Linked DNA regions of Homo sapiens. The protein of the gene in region 1 purifies or fractionates together with the protein of each later gene. This does not show direct contact. Each region holds a gene or a part of one and is shown on either strand. Other genes may lie near its edges.

What was found.
Region 2: the proteins of CSNK2A2 (region 1) and GPATCH2L purify together in Homo sapiens (affinity purification with mass spectrometry; 7 studies listed by BioGRID and IntAct, with this or other methods). This does not show direct contact.

Annotation. Positions count from the first base shown.
Region 1 is NC_000016.10:58,157,307-58,160,161, forward strand, and holds the end of CSNK2A2 (casein kinase II subunit alpha'), read right to left. Parts: exon of another isoform or gene 1,048-2,855; 3' UTR 601-1,047; downstream 1-600.
Region 2 is NC_000014.9:76,158,289-76,161,943, reverse strand, and holds part of GPATCH2L (G patch domain-containing protein 2-like), read right to left. Parts: intron 1-3,655.

The DNA of each region.
Region 1 (2,855 bases):
GGCCAGGGAGGATGCTGGCCAGTTGGAATGTGTTCAAGGCAAAGCCCCACTTTCCTGGCTGAGTCTACTTCAGCCATCCATATTGTCCCCATTCCTAGGACTGGTTCACTGTGTACCTCTTAACACCACTCAGCTCTGGAAGAGAGTCCTTACAAACGGGCCCTCCTTGGCTGAGTGTGGTGGCTCACACCTCTATGTAGACCCAGCACTTTAGGGGGACTAGGAAAGAGGATCACTTGAGTCAGGAGTTTGAGACCAGCCTGGGCCACGTGGCAAGACCATTTCTACAAAAAAAAAACTTAAGAAAACTTGTCAGGTGTGGTGGCATGCACCTGTAATCCCAGCTACTCAGGAGGCTGAAGCAGGAGGATCACTTGAGGCCAGGAGGCCGAGGCTGTAGTGAGCTATGGTTGCGCCACTGCACTCCAGCCTCCATGACAGAGCAAGACTGTTTAAAAACAAAAATGAAAACTGGCCCACCTTGTCCCAGGGACCTCCCCTGCTTCGTCTGGTTAGAACCTGGCACGAATGCGCTTTTGTCTCATCCTGAGTCACAGGCCTCAGTTCACGGCCCTTTCCATACTGAAAACTCTCCATACGTTTCTTTTAAAACCTTTTATTCAATAATATATACTTTTAAAATAATAATATGTAACTGCCGCCATGCCACATACTGCGCCCGTCCCCCCACTGTGGAGTCTGTGGTCAGCTAGTTAGCGTGGTTTGCTGGAAAAACAGGCGGCCACGGGACGAGTCGAGGGGCTCGGGGAGCAACAGTAACCAACAACATTCTGCATACCCTTCACATTCCCCATGCTTTCTGGGTCGGGAAGAAGTCAACAGGAAGCCAAAGGCAAGTGAGCCTTTTACATTCGGAAGTGAGGTTTGATATACGGTGGTGGGCTGCCCTTCGCTTGGTCTAGTTCGTGCTCGCCAAACCTGCCACCGTTTTGTGTCTGCTCACGGAACGTGATCTCTCTATACGCGTTAAGACGTTTGATTTGGTTCTTGTTCTGCTTATGGAAAAGTGGGAGAACCGCAACAGACCTGGGGAAAGAGACGGGAGGAGGGAAAGACGTCATTAATCAACCTGAGCGGGCGAGGGGAGGCCTCCACGTGTAGGAGGGCCTGTGCTAGAATGCAAGCTCGGCCCTCCCATGCCACTTGGTGGAGAACCCTGTGAGAACTCGCTGAGTTCAGGTTTCCAACAGTACCCTCTGCCTTCCTCTTCTGATTATCATGACAGAGATGGTCTCTAGCACGGCCTTCTGTCACAGGACGGGTGCTCTGGGCACCACGTGTGTTGTGACCAGGTCTTCCACTCTACCCCATCCCTCGGGTCCAGGGTGCTGATGGAGAAGCCTCAGAGCCTCTTGACCATTCTGTGCCAGTCAAGCTACAAATTCAGCAGTCAGCTCTAGGTCCCCCTCAGACCTGACCTGATTATCTGAGGTGTCTTAGGACTAAGACGGGGTCTGTATTTACTCAGAAAAAGGGCTGAGTCCACTAATAAACAAAGAGCAGTAAGTGAGCTCAAATATTTTTAACTCTCCCCTGGAAACAGCTAGCTGCCTGGCATGGCCTGAAAACCTCATTTCTCCTTCCAGGTCCAGCATAGCAAGTGGGTGGTGAGATGCCGGCAGTGGAATTCTAGAAGCAGTGCCTCCCAGAACAGCACTACAGTACTGAGGAAGGACTATGCACCTGGGAAGCTGTCACACACACAAAATCATTTCATGAAAACTTTCTTTGGGTAAAGGAAGGGTTCCACTGCGTAGTATTTGATTTGAGAAGGGCTGCATGGTGCATGAGGTTAAGAAAGAAATGACTATATTTGCCTTTAAACACTTCAGCTGATTCCAAGCACCCAACTTCAGAGGCTCAGTGAGAAGAAAGCACACTAATTAAAGAAAGCACATTAATTAAAGATACCACCACCTGCCAAATAATAGCATGTGCTGCAAGGAATGGGGCTAGGGAGAGTGTTTCACAAATGCAGAGCACCAGGCCACAAGGTTAAAGTCATGCACTAAAACAGTCAATCCCAAGAGGCAGGTGTCTGAGTGGCGCGACTCAGAAGCAAGTACATAAAAACGGAACACTCCCAACAGGACACCACTCTAGCCCCACTTCTGCCAAAGGAAAGTTTTCACATCAAGGTGTAACACACATCTTTGCAATTCAAGGTTTATCCCTCCCCTCTCCCCCAAAGAGACAGGAAATACAAGTTAAGGTCCTCATAGCAATGGTTTGTCTCCCACTTGGGAAGGCTGGTTATTGTCAACATTTTTATTTAAGAAAACAGGATTTAACATGGCATTTTTCTTCCCTCTAAGGGCAGCAGCACATAAATCATACATCAGTCATCCAGTGATACAAAGAGGTGGCCAATTGTGTCTGAAGTAGTCACTTGTAAAGGATCACAACCCAGGCAGTGTTGCTTTTCTGCAAACAGAAGGAAACAGAAGGCTCCATGGTCCTTGAAGATTATCCAAGTTTTCCACTAGTTGTCAAGATTTCTGTCCCAACCTCTTAGTCACCATTTACAGCAAGAAGAGCCAGCAAGTGAAAAACTGTTAATTTATTGATTCAAAGTTGTTTTTTTTCTTTTTAAAAAACAATCCCCAATACATGCAGTTCAGGGTTAAGTATCACATTTGTAGCACATTGTTGAGTCTCAAAACAAAAATATGCATCACCTGTATAATCCCATCACATCTTTTTCCAGCCTCTACAATACCTAGTTGGGGGTGTTTTCATTTATACATCCACATAGCTCAGAAGCATGTTATTAACGGTTGATCTGGCCCGATGCTTCTCCGCCACCTCCCCTGCCCTGGTCTCCACCTCGGGGT
Region 2 (3,655 bases), on another chromosome or scaffold:
CTGTCTCAGCCTCCCAAGTAGCTAGGATTACAGGCCTGTGCTACCACGCCTGGCTAATTTTCATATTTTTAGTAGAAACAAGGTTTCACCACATTGGTCAGGCTGGTCTCAAACTCCTGATCTTAGGTGATCCACCCGCCTAGGCCTCCCAAAGTGCTAGGATTACAGGCATGAGCCACCGCACCCGTCCTAGAGCTAGTAAGTTTTAGGGCAATTTTTTCTGCAGCAACAGATAATACAGAATCTTTATAAACTCTTTGTTGAAATTAATTCCCTTCTTCCTAAACAGTAGCTTCTAGTTTCAACAAAATAAACCCCTCTGAATTCCCAAAATTGCCAGGGGGAGCAGGGGGTGGGAAAAAAGCACAGCACACCCTCTGATCTGAGAGCTTGCTAATTCTTTCATACTCCTAACCACAGAAGACTGTAAAGTGAGAACTGAAAGAGTAACTTATACCTGTTCCAATTATAATAAGGAGGTACAGAATTACTTTATCACCTACAATCAAAAGTTGGTATTAATAAATTACCATCTGGGTTTGTTTCTCCCCATTTAAGAGCTTATTAACCAAGTAGCTTAATAAGAGGTGTTTTTTGCATCTAATTAATAGATATCTTAAAGTTTATGGCTTACATCGTCATTCTAAAAAACTTTTCTTAGTAAATAATAATGCACTTAACAAAAATAAAAGTTGTTTCAGAATTTAGAAAAACGTGGAAAAAAGTCACTCTTAGATCTACTGCCCAAAGGTATTTTTGTTCTATCGTTTTCCAGTTTTTTTCCAGGGTAGAGGTGGCACACTGGTAACCCTTTGTAATCAGACTTCTGAATCTAGTAGTAAACAAGACTGAGGGAGAGGTTATTCAGAGAAATATCTCACATCAGTTCTGAAATTATTCCTATAAGTAATGAGAATATATAATAAAAGAATTTCTTTTTCAGTTTCATTCAGACAGTGCCATGAAAGGCAGCAACCTCCGCAGGTTGACAGGTTCGATACTGTGACTAGTACAATCAGGTATACTTTGCAGAGACAGAATTTTCCTCAGGACTCTGCTATTGAGCTGGGGGCTGTGCCTCAGAGAAGTCCACCCATCCTTTCAAGACTTCCCTTTTCTTAGAGCTAACAGTGATTCATCTTCAGGTAGATGGAACGTCTTCTCACAGTAAATTTTTAAAGAACATGGATTCTGGGGCCTGCATATCTAAGAATGTCTGAGCCACTGCACCCAGTCTTCAACCCCTTTTAAGATTTTTCTTTCCTTAGTCTTGAGCATATGTGAAAAAAAGAAAAACTAAAATAAAATATTTTTTTAAAATCTCCGTCTCAGTAGAAGTCTCTTCTCATTAATTTTCGCTTTTAATCTTAAGACTTAATTTTTCAACTCAAGAACACTTTTTTCTCTTCAGTTGTATCTTCTTCTCCAGCACTTTGGTTTCTTCCCTGGGAATATTTACATACTCACAGACTTGGTCTCTTTGTTTAGAGCTACTAAGTTTTAGGGCGATTTTTTTCTGTAGCAATAGAGAATACAGATGGCCTATTGCCAAGATTTCCTCAAACTACAAGGCTGATAGAACCACACTTGACAATGAAATGGAGGCCCACGTTAGAAGTGCTGAGCCTGCCCTGAAGGTAGATAGCAAGCCCCTGCATCCTTTCTCTACAGTCACCTTGCAGTTCAGAAATGCAAGGCCAGTTTCAGTCAGAAAATCAGGCAGCTACAGGTTGAGGCAGGGTGTGGTTCTATCCTTCTCTTCCCATTGAGCATCATTCAGTTTCTTTTTTCTTTTTTTTTGAGACAGAGTCTCGCTCTGTCGCCCAGGCTCGAGTGCACTCAAGTGCAGTGGTGTGATCTCGGCTCACTGCAAGCTCCGCCTCCCGGGTTCACACCATTCTCCCGCCTCAGCCTCCTGAGTAGCTGGGACTACAGGCGTCCACCACCACGCCAAGGCTAATTTTTTTGTATTTTTAGTAGAGTCGGGGTTTCACCATGTTAGCCAGGATGGTCTCGATCTCCTAACCTTGTGATCCACCTGCCTCGGCCTCCCAAAGTGCCGGGATTACAGGCGTGAGCCACCACGCCCGGCCTGAGTATCTTTCAGTTTCTATTTGGTGGCTCTAACTCCCAGAATACACTTGGATAGGGAAGCTTAGTGTTTTCTGTGTGTATTTGTGTTTGAGGGTAGGAAGCAGTTATAGGGTATTGAGTCCTAGAAAGTATAGTCTTCAAGAACAAAGATTCCAGTTGACATGGGCAGAGAAGTGCATTCTGGAGACAGTACATTCTGGAGACTGCAGTGTTTTCTACACCTTCATTTACGGCACACTCCTGGAATGGGGTCAGAATCAAGCAGTGAGGGTTAGATGATCCTATCTCAGTCCAGCATAGCTGTATGAGATAAAAGCCTCCCAGTAGCACTGGGAGCACTGGGCTAGGGGCTCTGCATATTCTCTTGGCCAGCTGTAGATCTGAGAATGGCAGTTACCTATGTCCACGGGAGTAGAGAAGGGGACCAAGGGTAATCTATGCACCCTTGCTGGCAAATACCAAGAGGCCTTTGAACAAATTCTGCGAAATAAGAGAAAAGGGAATATCATTCTAAAAGTTGAGAGAAAGAATGAATCTTTGAAGATGACTGCCAGTGGGAACCACAAGAATTCAAGTGGGCAGTTGAGGCTACTTACCAGTTAAGACATTACAATGGTGGGAAGTAGACTGTGACTGAAAAGAATCGCAGCATCTCAGTGTTACAAGGGATCTCAGAAGCCTTCAGTTCAACCTTCTCAACTCCACAGCAACTAAGTAAGCGGTCATCAAGCCCATGTTTGAATCCCCCCACCTGATCTAGAAGTTATTACGCATTACATGGTGAAACAATTCACTTCATTTTTACAGAGTCCTAATTTTTAGAATCTTATTTTTTAACCGCAGCAACATTTAACACTCTGTACTCTCTATCCCTGAGTTCTGTCCTGTGGAGCCACACAGAACAATCCCAATATTTCTTTTAAGAGGTAGACTCTTTTACGAGATGGATGTTTCTTTCAAGAGATAGACCTTCAAGTACAATAGTATCATATCGACCTCCCAAGCTGTGTGTTTTAGTTGTCCCTAAGGATACTAGCAGAACTGTGAATATACCCACATAAGCACACTATGCTAGCTATTCGAGAATCTCACATGCAATACTACCAACTGCAACAATGGTAAATATATTCTTGGTCAGCATCCCTACTTACAGAATAGAAAACAGAACACCCCCACCTACCATACATATTCTTTTACACAGCTCCAGGAAACCCTGATTAATGACCTCCACTTGCAAAGGAGGCTACTTACCTTAACCATGAAATAATGAATGCTATTGATCCAACAAGCTACTGCTATAGAGTGTTATTGATCACCCAATCTTTGGTTAAAATGGTCCTCATTTAGCAATTTCACTGTCACAAACACCTGGAGCAAAGCACACTCATAATTAAAGAGTTTGGGGGAGTTAAAGTGAGAGGTGATGGACAGAGATCTCAGCTTTCTCCCACTTATTCTTGCTTCTGAGCTATTGTTTGTATCAGAAGGGATATTGATTTTCTATAAAAATAAGAAAACAAGAGGCACCAAAGGGCCGCAGAAGGTCAGCCTGGGCTGGAGA